4 linked regions of the Homo sapiens genome follow. The protein of the gene in region 1 purifies or fractionates together with the protein of each later gene. This does not show direct contact. Each region holds a gene or a part of one and is shown on either strand. Other genes may lie near its edges.

What was found. The genes of interacting proteins can lie anywhere in the genome.
Region 2: the proteins of ABCA2 (region 1) and ZNRF2 purify together in Homo sapiens (affinity purification with mass spectrometry; one large-scale study listed by BioGRID and IntAct). This does not show direct contact.
Region 3: the proteins of ABCA2 (region 1) and EDEM2 purify together in Homo sapiens (affinity purification with mass spectrometry; one large-scale study listed by BioGRID and IntAct). This does not show direct contact.
Region 4: the proteins of ABCA2 (region 1) and WASF1 fractionate together in Homo sapiens (co-fractionation; one large-scale study listed by BioGRID). This does not show direct contact.

The regions. Positions count from the first base shown.
Region 1 is NC_000009.12:137,021,733-137,025,249, reverse strand, and holds part of ABCA2 (ATP-binding cassette sub-family A member 2), read left to right. Parts: intron 1-1,013; coding exon 1,014-1,107; intron 1,108-1,409; coding exon 1,410-1,412; intron 1,413-2,197; coding exon 2,198-2,309; intron 2,310-2,384; coding exon 2,385-2,548; intron 2,549-2,771; coding exon 2,772-2,899; intron 2,900-3,248; coding exon 3,249-3,359; intron 3,360-3,517. UniProt on the Homo sapiens protein: Probable lipid transporter that modulates cholesterol sequestration in the late endosome/lysosome by regulating the intracellular sphingolipid metabolism, in turn participates in cholesterol homeostasis.
Region 2 is NC_000007.14:30,326,084-30,329,600, forward strand, and holds part of ZNRF2 (E3 ubiquitin-protein ligase ZNRF2), read left to right. Parts: intron 1-3,517. UniProt on the Homo sapiens protein: E3 ubiquitin-protein ligase that plays a role in the establishment and maintenance of neuronal transmission and plasticity. Ubiquitinates the Na(+)/K(+) ATPase alpha-1 subunit/ATP1A1 and thereby influences its endocytosis and/or degradation.
Region 3 is NC_000020.11:35,126,833-35,130,349, reverse strand, and holds part of EDEM2 (ER degradation-enhancing alpha-mannosidase-like protein 2 isoform 1 precursor), read left to right. Parts: intron 1-3,517. UniProt on the Homo sapiens protein: Involved in the endoplasmic reticulum-associated degradation (ERAD) pathway that targets misfolded glycoproteins for degradation in an N-glycan-dependent manner.
Region 4 is NC_000006.12:110,110,167-110,113,683, reverse strand, and holds part of WASF1 (actin-binding protein WASF1), read left to right. Parts: intron 1-223; coding exon 224-358; intron 359-3,517.

The DNA.
Region 1 (3,517 bases):
TGGTTTTCAGGTGAAGTGAGCAAAGCACCTCTTTCTCACTCCACGCAGGTCCCACTAGGGCTCACCTTGGTGCCCAGCCTGGGTTAGCAGGAGCCGACCTGGGGAAACTGAGCTCCAAGGCCCAAGACTGGCTGCCCCGGGTCAGGAGAGGGGACAGGGCAGAAAGAGGTGCCTTTGGGCCAGGTGTGGTGGCTCACGCCCAGGTGGGCGGATCACGAGGTCAGGAGATCGACACCATCCTGGCTAACACGGTGAAACCCCGTCTCTACTAAAAATACAAAAAATTAGCTGGGCATGGTGGCGGGCGCCTGTAGTCCCAGCTACTCGAGAGGCTGAGGCAAGAGAATGGTGTGAACTTGGGGGACGGAGCTTGCAGTGAGCTGAGATCGCACCACTGTGCTCCAGCCTGGGTGACAGAGTGAGACTCCGTCTCAAAAAAAAAAAAAAAAAAAGGTGCCTTTGCTTCAGGGACTGGGGCTGTTAGACCCCTTACCAGGTCTTCTCCGAGGCTCAGGGCCCTGGGCGCAGGCCAAGCCTCTCAACCAGGCCTCCTCATCTCCCCAGGCCCCGGTATTGGTGGGGAGGAAGTGGGAGGAAGGTGAACCCGGGGCAGTGTGGGAAGTGTAGGCGGGGCTAGTGGCTCAGATGGTCCCCAAGATTTTGCCCAGGTAGCCCTGGAGGTGGGGAGGGAGAAGATGAGCTGGGATATACATGGGTCAGAGTAGACCACAAGCTGGCCGATTTGTCCCTGTAGGCCCTGAGGCTCCTCAGAGGGCACGTAGGCCCAGTGTGGGCTGGGGACGGGAAACCTGATTTGCTGAGCCAGACAATCCTTACCCTCAGTGCCCTGGAAGGGGCTCAGACCTTCAGTGGTTCCGAAGGGCCTGTGCCCACCTTCCCTGGCCCCAGGGAGCACGTGGTCCTGTCTGGGCTGGGCCAGCCCTATGGGAGGCTGGGGAGGGCCTAGGCGAGCACAGGTCTGTCCTATCCCTCACTGGGCCCACCCTTTCCAGTGGGTCCTGGCCTTCGAGATCTTCATCCCCCTGGTGCTGTTCTTTATCCTGCTGGGGCTGCGACAGAAGAAGCCCACCATCTCCGTGAAGGAAGGTGAGTGCGGCAGGAGGCCCCAGGCACAGCCGGGGGAGCGCGGCACCTCGCACGCCTGCGCTGTGTGTGCACATCTGCACACGGGTGTCCTGCTCCCGGAGTCCCTGAGGTGCGGTGCCTGCTCCCCTGTGTGGTCCTGGGCCGTGCCTCCTGGCTGGGCTGTGGAGGTCGGGGCTGGCCTGTGGCCGCGAATGATGATGCCAACGCCTCTTCCTGGTGATGTGGGCACTCACTGGTCTCCTCTGTTCTGTTTTGATCCCCCTCCCTCCCCGCATGGTCTCTTGTCCTCGGCTGGCATGCAGTCTGTAAGTGAGCGGCCACCTCCTCCTGGCTGGCCTGGGCAGCAGCTGCGGGGGGCCCATGGGCCGTCCTGGCTTGAGCGCCCTCCCCGCTTGCATTAACAGCCCTCCCGGGCCCCCTGCCGGCCTCAGGAACAGCTGGCTCCAGATGGGGGGTGGCAGGCAGTGAAGTGGGAGGTGGTAGGGAGTGAAAGGCCCGGCCACCTAAAGGCACAGCTGGTGCCTGGGTCAAGCTGAGGCGGCATCTCTCTGCCTGGCCTTGCCTTCTAGGGCTGGGGTGCCTCGGCTTCTGGGCTGAGTCTGGGCTGAGGCTGGGCTGGCCTGGGCTGGGGCTGGAGCGGCCTGGCTACTCTCCCTTCATACTCCTTCAGGCTCTTGCACTCACTCTGCTAACCAGCTGGCCAGAGGTCAGAGGTCACTGCCCAGAGGGGGTCCTTTGTCCTCCCCTGGGCTCTGTAGGCAGTGCCACACCTGAAACGTTTTCGGGGGGAGAGTGCCAGGGCATGTGGGCCTGCACTGGCTGAAAGGAAAGGAATGCTCTGGGAGTTATGGCAGAAGGGGTGGTGAGTGGCTCTTTGACCTCTGACCTGCTGGAGTCATTCGCCCCAGAACGCTTGGCCTGTAGCCCAGCTGGGGCCAGGGCTCTGTGCCGCCTTCTCCCTAACGCTGCTTCTCCTTCCTGACTTTCTCTAAATTTCTCCTCTCGGCCTCTGTCTCCCTCCCCTTCTGGATTCCTCTCTCTCTCTCTCCCCTTTCACCCCCGACCCTGCCCTCTCCCGTGGGTCTGCCAGCCTTCTACACAGCGGCGCCCCTGACGTCTGCCGGCATCCTGCCTGTCATGCAATCGCTGTGCCCGGACGGCCAGCGAGACGAGTTCGGCTTCCTGCAGTACGCCAACTCCACGTGAGTGCCCACCCGCCCCTCGGAGCACCCACCCCTCCCCAGCCCATCCAGTGAGTGACATCCGCCATGGTGCAGGGTCACGCAGCTGCTTGAGCGCCTGGACCGCGTGGTGGAGGAAGGCAACCTGTTTGACCCAGCGCGGCCCAGCCTGGGCTCAGAGCTCGAGGCCCTACGCCAGCATCTGGAGGCCCTCAGTGCGGGCCCGGGCACCTCGGGGAGCCACCTGGACAGATCCACAGGTGTGCCCTGTGCAGGGAAGTTGGGGGGCAGGGCTGCGGGCAAAGCTCTGCTGTCACTGGGCTGAAGCCCACATCCACTCTGGGCCCCTCCACCTGCACTGAGTTCCCAGCCACGCACAGGCTGCAGTGGCAGAGCTGTGGTGTTGGGCTCGGCTCCGAGCGCATGTGGGGGCACCTTGCCAAGGTGCAGCGGCCTCTCAGCCTCGCCTTCCTGCCTGTCCAGTGTCTTCCTTCTCTCTGGACTCGGTGGCCAGAAACCCGCAGGAGCTCTGGCGTTTCCTGACGCAAAACTTGTCGCTGCCCAATAGCACGGCCCAAGCACTCTTGGCCGCCCGTGTGGACCCGCCCGAGGTAAGGCAGGGACAGCTCCCAGCCCTGGCCACTCCCTTCTGCCCCAGCCACGCCCCCTGGTTGCTGAGCCATCCTCAGGATGCTCAGCCTGAGTCACGCCCAGACCGTCTGAACCTTGCCCCCACCATCTGAGCCACGCCCCCACTCTCTGAGCCATGCCCCCACCATCTGAGCCACGCCCCCACACCTACATCGGAGCCACGCCCCCACCATCTGAGCCACGCCCCCACTCTCTGAGCCACGCCCCCACCATCTAAGCCACGCCCCCACACGTCCATCGGAGCCACGCCCCCACCATCTGAGCCACGCCCCCCACACCCCATCTGAGCCATTCCCCCACACCTCCTAGGTCTACCACCTGCTCTTTGGTCCCTCATCTGCCCTGGATTCACAGTCTGGCCTCCACAAGGGTCAGGAGCCCTGGAGCCGCCTAGGGGGCAATCCCCTGTTCCGGATGGAGGTGAGGGCATCCATGTGTGGGATGGGCCTGGAGTGCTGCCTGCCTCTGGGGGTGCTTCTGCTCCGTGGGTGAGGAAAGGGCCCCTTTGGTGACTTGGAGCTCCTCCTGGGAGAGGGGGAGGGTCCCAGGGGTCTATGGCAGGCATGAGGGGTAGAGGC
Region 2 (3,517 bases), on another chromosome or scaffold:
TTTTTGTGTAATATATCTAGAATACAGTCTTCTTGTGTATTGTGATATTTAACAATTTTTTTAACTTTTAAGTTGAGGGGTACATGTGCAGGTTTGTTATATAGGTAAACTTGTGTCATGGGGGTTTGTTCTACAGATATTTTGTTACTCAGGTATTAAGCCTAGTACTCATTAGTTATTTTTTCTGATCCTCTCCTTCCTCCTACTCTCCACCCTCTGGTAGGCTCCAATGTGTATTGTTCCCCTCTTTGTGTCCATGTGCTCTCATCATTTAGCTCCCACTTACAAGTGAGAACGTGCGGAATTTGCTTTTCTGTTCCTGTGTGAGTTTGCTGAGGATAATGGCCTCCAGCTCCATCCATGTTTCCACAGAGGACATGATCTTCTTTTTTATGGCTGTGTAGTATTCACACGGTATATATGGACCCACATTTTCTTTATCCAGTCTATCATTTGATGGGCATTTAGGTTGATTCCATGTCTTTGCTCTTGTGAACAGTGCTGCAGTGAACATATGCATGCATGTGTCTTATAACACAAGGATTTATATTCCTTTAGGTGTATACCCAGTAGTGGGATTGATGGGTCAAATGGTATTTCTGTTTTTAGGTCTTTGAGGAATTGCCATACTGTCTTCCACAATGGTTGAACTAATTTACACTCCCACCAACAGTGTGTTAAGTGTTCCTTTTTCTCTGCAGCCTCTCCAACATGTATTTTTTTTTGACTTTTTAATAATACGCATTCTGACGCTTGAAATGGTATCTCCTTGTGGTTTTGATTTGCATTTCTCTAATGATCAGTGATGTTGAGCTTTTTTTCATATGATTCTTGGCCACATTTATGTCTTCTTTTGAAAAGTGTTCATCTCCTTTGCACATTTTTTCATGGGGTTGTTTGCTTTTTTCTTGTAAATTTGTTTAAGTTCCTTATATATGCTGGATATTAAACCTTTGTCAGATGCTTCGTTTGCAAAAATTTTCTCCCATTCTGTAGGTTGTCTGTTCACTTTGTTGATAGTTTCCTTTGCTGTGCAGAAGCTCTTTAGTTTAATTAGATCCCATTTGTCAATTTTTGGTTTTGTTGCAATTGCTTTTGGTGCCTTTGTCATGAAATCTTTGCCTGTTCTTATGTCTATAATGGTATTGCATAAGTTGTCTTCCAGGGTTTTTATAGTTTTGGATTTTACATTTAAGTCTTTAATTCATCTGGACTTAATTTTTGTATGTGGTTTAAGGAGGTTGGCGTGGGGTAGGGGTCCAGTTTCAATCTTCTGCATATGGCTAGCTAGTTATCCCAGCACCATTTATTGAATAGGGAATCCTTTCCCCATTGCTTGTTTTTGGTCAGGTTTGGATATTTGACAGTTCTTAATTTCCTGATTTAACTATGCCTAAGTCATTAAACTGTTCTGCTAGATCACTTGTTTGGTGTCTTAAGAACTAATATATAACCTTCTGCTTGGGGATACTATAACAACCAAATATTTCGAATTTTAAATATTTAACAGTATTTCAATCTAGAAATTAATAAATTTCATGCAATAAGTAAATAAACTTGTAGGCATTCTTAAAGTTGCTGACTGAAAGCTTTAAAAAATAAAAATATATATATTTTTGTTTTTAGAGTCAGGATCTTGCTGTGTTGCCCGGGCTGGAGCTCAGTGGCTATCTATAGGCACAGTCATGGCACACGACAGCCTCAAACTCCTGGGCACAAGTGATCCTCCTACCTCAGCCTCCTAAGTAGCTAGGACTACAGGTGCATGCCACCATGCCTGGCTTTTATTTTTTATTTTGTAGAGATAAAAAATTCAAAGTATGTATTAATTGTATAAACATTCACAGCAAGAAGCAAATACAGCTTCTTAATAAAAACCGTGTATAGTTTTTGAGGTTTTAAAACTAGCTCTTGGACAGTGGCCAGTTATGAGTAAGTGAAGGAGAAAGGAGCTTTGCCTGGACTGATTTGGAGGGTTACAGAGAGGTGGCAGGTTAATAATGTACTTTCCTATCATAGGCAAGGGGAATTCTAATGCCACCTGGTTTTAAAGTCAGACCCCCCCCAAAATGTCTGTCACAGGTGATGAGTCCAAATGGAAATTGGCTCCTTTAATACCTCATAAGCAAACCATCTAGGATTATTATAAAGTAGAACAAGGTAAAGCCAGAGAATCTCTAAAACTGAATCTTTTTAGTCAACTGGATTCCTCACAATTTTATATTTGAATTCCTACATGTTGATTCCATAGAGAGATACATCAGATACATTGGGCCTCTGAATTGTGTTAGTGCTCAAACAAGAACATTTTTTTCAGCATACTGTTCATTTAACTTACACTTTTGCAGCCTTTTCCAAAGTAGCTAGATCTGAAATTTTGAAATTTATTTGTTAAGTGAATGTTAACTGTCTATAAACATTCATAGTTATAACACAAGAATAGTGGGGCTTGTTTTCTTCAGACTGGATATATTTATATAGATAAGCTCCTGAATTGGATGAGTTCCAGAAATTCAAATATAAGTTGATGATTTAGAGTTTCAGACTCTTTGTCACAGAGATGATATTTGAAATATTGGTTTTTCAGACTAGCTCACCAAAACCTTCTTATTTTTTTAAATGCACAATATATCTGAACACCCACATCCTGGTACCTGAAGAAGAAATTGGCTGACTAGGTAGAAACTCTCAGGGATTGGGCAGCTGGCTCGGCAGAGATCCCAATGGGACGCCCAAGGCTGTCAGGGCAGGGAAGGATTTTGAATGATGTGGGTGGTATTATCTATTGCAGATGGTATTTTGGCAGCTTGAAAAAATTAAGAATGCCACAGTGAGTATTCAACAACATAGATTACCTTCATGTGAAGGACTGCCTGTTTCATATACTTTTCCCTCTTTCATGTGCTTCATTGTTGAGTTTATGGACCTAATAATTCCTTGTATAGTCTATGAATCTAATACAAATTTTATGAGTATAGAGGCTCTCTTCATTTCCTTGCTCCTTCTAGGATATTTCAGACAAGCCAACAAATTAAATATTATTAGCAAATTCTTAGTTTTTTTAAAAAATTTTATTATGTGTACATAATAGTACATTTATAGGGGTCCATGTGATATTCAGATACAAATGTACAATGTGTAATGATCAAATCAGGATAATTGGGACATCCATCACTTCAAGCATTTATAATTTCTTTGTATTAGGTACATACCAGTTCTGCTTTTCTAGTTATTTTGAAATACACAATAAATTATTGTTAACTATAGTTGTCCTGTTGTGCTTCCAAGCACTAGGTCTTATTCCTTTTATCTGAAGGTATTTTTGTACCCATTAATCAAACCCTCTTTATATCCCCCTTCCCCAGTACCCTTCCCAGCCTCTGGTAACCATCATTCTTCTCTCTGTCTCCATGAGATCAGTTTTGTTTTGTTTTGTTTTTTAAGCTCCCACATAATGAGTGAAAATATGCTATAGTTGTCTTTCTGTGCCTGGCTTATTTCACTTAACATAATGTCC
Region 3 (3,517 bases), on another chromosome or scaffold:
GCCTTTAATCCCAGTGCTTTGGGAAGCTGAGGCGAGAGAATTGCTTGACCCCAGAAGTTCAAGATCAGCCTGGGCAACATGGTGAGACCTCGTCTCTACAAAAAATAAAAAAAAATTTGCTGGGCATGATGGTGCGTGCCTGTAGTCCCCACTACTTGGGAGGCCAAGGTGAAGGATTGCTTGACCCTGGGAGGTCAAGGGTGCAGTGAACCGTGATCATACCACTGCATTTCAGCCTGGGTGACAGAGTAAGACCCTGTCTCAAAAATAAAAATTTTTAAAAATTTAATGAATTAAGAATTCTCATAGATGTGTATGTATAGGAAAACAGTAGTCACGCATTGCTTAATGACAGGGATATAGTCTGAGAATTGCATCGTTAGGTGATTTCATCATTGTGCAAACATCATAGGGTGTACTTAAGCAAACCTAGATGGTATAGCCAACTACACACCTAGGCTATATGGTGTAGCCTATTGCTCCTAGGCTACAAACCTGTACAGCATGTTACTCTACTGAATACTATAGACAATTGTAATAGAATGGTAAGTATGTATATAAACATAGAAAAAGTACAGTACAAATACAGTATAAAAGGGCACATGAATGAAGTTCACAGGACAGGAAGTTGCTCTGGGTGAGTCAGTGAGTGGTGAGTGAATGTCAAGGTCTAGGACATTACACTATTGTAAACTTTATAAATACTGTACACTTAGGCTATACTAAATTTATTTAAATTTTTTTTTCTTTCTCCAGTAATAAATTTTTTTTTTTTTTTTGAGATAGAGTCTTGCTCTGTTGCCCAGGCTGGAGTGCAGTGGCATGATCTTGGTTTACTGCAACCTCTGCTTCCCCAGTTCAAGTGATTCTCCTGCCTCAGCCTCCTGAGTAGCTGGGATTACAGGCGCCCACCACCATGCCTGGCTGATTTTTTTTTTCTTTAAAGACAGAGTCTCACTCTGTTGCCCAGGCTGGAGTACAGTGGTGCAATATCGGCTCGCTGCAACCTCTGCCTCCCGGGTTCTAGCAATTCTCCTTCCTCAGCCTCCCGAGTAGCTGGGATTACAGGTGCACGCTGCCATGCCCAGCTAATTTTTTGTATTTTAGTAGAGATGGGGTTTCACTGTGTTGCCCGGGCTGGTCTTGAACTCCTGAGCTCAGGCAATCCACCCGCCTCGGCCTCCCAAAGTGCTAGGATTACAGGCGTGAGCCACCGTGCCTGGCCTAATTTTTGTATTTTTAGTAGAGATGGATGGGTTTTCACCATGTTGGCCAGGCTGGTCTCAAACTCCTGATCTCAGGTGATCTCCACCCACCTTGGCCTCCCAAAGTGCTGGGATTAGAGGCGTGAGCCACCATGCCTGGCCTCCAATAATAAATTAACGTTAGCTTACTGTAACTTTTTTACTTTATGAACTTTAAAATTTTAAAAAACTTTTTGACTCATTTGTAATAATGCTTAGCTTAAAACACATTGTACAGCTATACAGAAATATTTTATTTATATCCTTATTCTCTAAGTTTTTTTCTGTTTTTAGTTTTTTATTTTGTTTTCACCTTTTAGACTTTTTTGTTAAAAACTAAGCTACAAACACACATTAGCCTAGGCCTAGGGTCAGTATCATCAATATCACTGTCTTCCACTTCCCCATGTTATCCTGCTAGAAGGTCTTTGGGGGCAGTAACACTCACAGAACTGTTGTTATCTCAGATGATTGATAACAATGCCTTCTGGAATTCCTTGAAGGACCTGCCTGAAGCTGTTTCATTTTTTTTTTTTTTTTAGACAGAGTTTTGCTTATGTTGCCCAGGCTGGAGTGCAGTGGCACCATCTCGGCTCACTGCAACCTCCGCCTCCCAGGTTCAATTCTCCTGTGATTTTCCTGTCTTAGCCTCCTGAGCAGCTGGGATTATAGGCACCCACCACTACGCCCAGCTAATTTTTGTTTTTGTTTTTATTTTTTTTGGAGACAGAGTCTTGCTCTGTTGCCCAGGCTGGAGTGCAGTGGTGTGATCTCCGCTCACTACAAACTCCACCTCCCGGATTCACGCCATTCTCCTGCCTCAGCCTCCCGAGTAGCTGGGATTACAGGCGCCCGCCACCACACCCAGCTAATTTTTTTGTATTTTTAGTAGAGATGGGGTTTCACCGTGTTAGGCAGGATGGTCTAACACTGACCTCGTGATCCGCCCACCTCGCCCTCCCAAAGTGCTGGGATTACAGGTGTGAGCCACCACGCCCAGCCGACTTTTTTTATATAAGAGGAAGGAGTTATCTAATGATAATAATATAGTAAATACATAAACGCGTAAATGGTTGTTTATTAAATATCACGTACTATACATAATTGTATGTGTTATACTTTTATGACTGGCAGCACAGTAGGTGTGTTTACACCAGTATCACCACAAACAAGTAAGTAATGCATTGCATTATAAAATTACAACAGCTGTGATATCTTTAGGCTGTGGTGATTTTTCACCTCTATTATAATTTTATAGGACCACCATCTCTACAGTTCAGTGTTGACCAACATGTTGTTATATGGCACATGACTGTATATAGAGTTTATTTAGTACTATCCATGGTTTCAGACATCCACTGAGGGTCTTGGAACGTATTCTCCTCACATAAGGGGGGACTACTTTACTCATTTATTCAACAAATATTTATTGAATACCACGGATGTACCAAGCATTGTGCCAAGCTCTGAACATGGACTGTTTCATATAATCCTTACAACTCCTGTTTGAGATTATCTTATTTATTTGCATGTATATTTGGTACTTTGTTCATTCAGAAAATGTTTATTGCTCATTGTACTAGTGTGGGGGATTCTGCAGTAGACAAAACAAAGTCCCAGGCCTCATGGATTTACAATCTAGGGGAGAGATATGAGGGATAAATTCAAGTTCCTACTAGAATGTAAGTTCTCTGAAGGCTGGATTTTGTCTTGTTTACAAACTCATAGGAGCCTGGAACCTAGTAGGTGCTTAGCGAATGTTTGTGGTATAAATAAATGACTGAAAAATTCCACAGATACCTAACATTACTGTATTAGACCATTTTCACTGCTGATAAAGACGTACTCAAGACTGGGTAATTTATAAAGAAAAAGAGGTTTAATGGACTCACAGTTCCACATGGCTGGGGAGGCCTCACAATCGTGGCGGAAGGCGAAAGGCACATCTTACATGGTGCAGGCAAGAGAGAATGAGAGCCAAGTGAAAGGGGAAACCTCTTATAAAACCATCAGATCTTGTGAGACTTATTCACTACCATGAGAACAGTATGGGGGAAACGGCCCCCATGATTCAATTATCTCCCACCAGGTCCCTTCCACAACACGTGAGAAATATGGGAGCTACAATTCAAGGTGAGATTTAGGTGGGGACACAGCCAAACCACATCAATTATTTTCTGCTTTTTTCTTTTTGAGATGGAGTTTCACTCTTGTTGCCCAGGCTGGAGTGCAATGGTGCGATCTCAGCTCACAGCAACCTCCGCCTCCTGGGT
Region 4 (3,517 bases), on another chromosome or scaffold:
GTGGACTATTACAGTTAAACGATTTTGTTCAAGGGTCAACTGTAATTCCAAATAAATTCCAAATTCAACAGGTCACCAGTTGTAATATTACATTGTTCATTATTTATCTCTGATCACAAAGTATCTGAGGGCAAATATCATGCTAGATTTCTACTGCTTGCAAAGATAAAAACTCAGTGCTCTGGATGTTAAATTTTATGATATATGTGTCATTTTTGCTTAGGTAAATATGCTGAAGATATATTTGGAGAATTATTCAATGAAGCACATAGTTTTTCCTTCAGAGTCAACTCATTGCAAGAACGTGTGGACCGTTTATCTGTTAGTGTTACACAGCTTGATCCAAAGGAAGAAGAATGTAAGCTTATTAATATTGTATTTTCTTCTACGTATATATTTTAAGTTAGATGAGATGAATGATATACTTAACAGTATTAATCATGAATTTATTACAGATCATACCCATGTCCTTTGGTGTACATATTGTAATAAATCAGTGAATTATCTAAAAATGCCATCAGTATGATTCTCCGGGCTTTTCTTTTCTACTCTGTTTTAAATCTCTTCTTTTTGTACACTAAACAGCTCCTAATTTTTTTGCATAAAGAAGTCATTTTAACCAGACATTTTCCTCCATTCTCTTCATTATCTTTCTCTTTTCATTTCTCCCTTATAATTTATTTGTATACTTTTGTCTTAGAAATAAAAATTATTAGAAAATTACCTGAAATCTTTAGGTTTGATTCTACAAGAATGTAACTGGTTTTTTTTTTGTTTTTTTTTTTTTTTGAGACAGACACTCTGTCACTAGGCTGGAGTGCAGTGGCGCAATCTCGGCTCACTGCAACCTCCACCTCCCAGGTTCAAGCAATTCTCCTGCCTCAGCCTCCTGAGTAGCTGGGATTACAGGTGTCTGCCACCACGCCTGGCTAATTTTTTTATTTTTAGTAGAGATGGGGTTTCACCATGTTGGTCCGGCTGGTCTCGAACTCCTGACCTTGTGATCTGCCCACCTCGGCCTCCCAAAGTGTTGGGATTATAGGCATGAGCCACTACACCTGGCTATGTAACTGCTTTTAATATGCTTTTGTATGTGCATATTGCTAAAGTCTTATTAGTTATTTAACTGAATGCAACTTCCTACTTTAAATGAACATTTCAAAAACAAATTGCCAGTATGTAGGGTGTAAACATTCTATACCAAGATATTAAATCAGGAATAATCAGATAGGCTAAAATAATTGTAGAAACTTCGGTGGTAAAATCATGTTTTATGCCTTGATAGAATACATTGAATGCCGACGTTTCCCAAATGCATCTTTTTGTTTGTTTCACAAAAAGAAATGCAATACTAAGAACATAATTTGCACTTACCTACCACAGAGAATTGTTTAATGGAATTTCTTACACTCTCTTCAAAATATTTTTGTTGCATTAAATAGTATAAACACAAATTATATGATAGATCTAATTTTTAGTATAAATGCAAATTATATAATAGATCTAAACTTTAACAATAAAAATACTAAAGGATGTCAGTGGAAAGAACAAAAATATAATGTAATGATAGATGTCTTAGTGATGGAACCAGCTACTTTTGAAATAATCCAATGTGTAAATAAGGAGAGGCAAATACTTGGCATACTAGATTTGTACCACTTGTAAAATGTAAACTCAGAGCTCTGGATACAAGAAGAAAAGGAAATAATACTTAAAAAATAGCTTTATTAAGATATATTTCACAACCTACGTATACCTTGCAGTTCACCCATTTAAAGTTGAAGTGTACAATTCAGTGTTTTTTAGTATATTCAAGTTATGCAACCGTCACCACAATCAATTTTAGAGTATTTGTATCACTCCAGAAAGAAGCCCTGTACTCATTAGCAGTCACTCTGTTTCCCCTTCAGCTCAACCCCTAGCAATCACTGATCTTTCTGTCTGTATGGATTTGCCTCTATGGATTTGTCTGTATGGATCTGTCTGTATGGATATTTCATATGAATGAATAGTACAGTATGTGGTCTTTTGTGACTGGCTTCTTTTAGCATAATGTTTTCAAGGTTCATTCATATAGCATGTATTTATATCTCCCTGATGGCTAATGATGTTGAGTATGTTTTCATGTGCTTACAGGCCATTTGAATATCTCCTTTGGAGAAATGTCTATTTAATTCCTTAGCCCATTTATAATTTGTATTATTCGTGTTTTTATTTTTGACTTGTTGGAATTCTGTGTATATTCTGGATCTAAATCCTTTATCAAATATATGATTTGCAAATATTTTCTCCCCTTCTTTAGGTTGTCTTTCTTGGTGGTATCCTTTGAAACATGTGCATGTATCAATACATTAATTACACCTCATGGAATTCTTGAAATAAAATCATTGTTAGTGGTGAAAAATATTTTATGGTCATGCTTTCAAATACATAATTTATAGCCAAAATTTGTTTTTCAGATAACTCAACTGCTTATCACTTAAATATAAATTTATGCCATCAAATAATAGAGAAATACACAGGCAGTTCTCATATGTAACAGAAATAAAAATCAACATTTAGTTTCAAAATATTGTTACATTTTAACAAATGTCTTAGAGCCACCATTAAACTTGAAAGTGAAAATACAGATAACAGTAAATAAATTAAGATGTTTGTGTTAAAAAACAAATTTTAATATGTCAACAGCTATACTGTCAGAATTATACCTAGTTTCCTTTAAAATTTTGTGGAGCAGTGGGGGAAGAATTCAGAATCTAAAAGCTGAACTACTTAATTTGAAATTGTTTTGGAGAGGTTGTATTGAAGGAGTTTTCAGTTATTTAACCTAGGTTTTTTAATTCAGTGGGAATTAAAAAAAAAACATCATGTGTACAGTACTAAATAGCACAGTGTGGTATCAGTTTTTTTAACCGTTTTGTAGTAACTAAAAACTATCAATTTTGAAAATATTTTTTAAATGAATTTTAAACAAAGACTTGTACAATTATATTTAAGTCAATTATGTTTATAAGCATTATGCTAATTTATTGCTTTATAATTCTATTTTATTAATATCAGATGTTATTGTTGGCAAGTGGAAGGAGCTTCACCACAATAGTCTGTTAATAATAAGACAAACGATAAATGAGAGGAGTTGAAGATAGAAAAGTACATCATGCTTATTAGTTTACATGTTTCTTACATCCTTTACCAAGGAAGTTTGGCGAGATTAAACACTAGGTTTCATCTTAATTACATACTTATTGATTAATAAGTGGGGCAGGAGAGTGGCAAGAATTGATCCACTTTGACTGCAGAAAACACAACCCACTTCTGGCAGGAGCCTGAGAACAGCGTGTGGTATTGTGGCAAAAAGATTAGCCTCAAAGGTAGACAGATCTGACTTTTCTGTTCTGGCTCTGCTGTTTATTAACTGTTTAACCTCAGGTCAGTTATATACTATTTCCTAGCCTTAGCTTTCTTATATTTCACAATGGAGTAATAATTCCTGTCTTACTGAATTGTAAAGATTAAA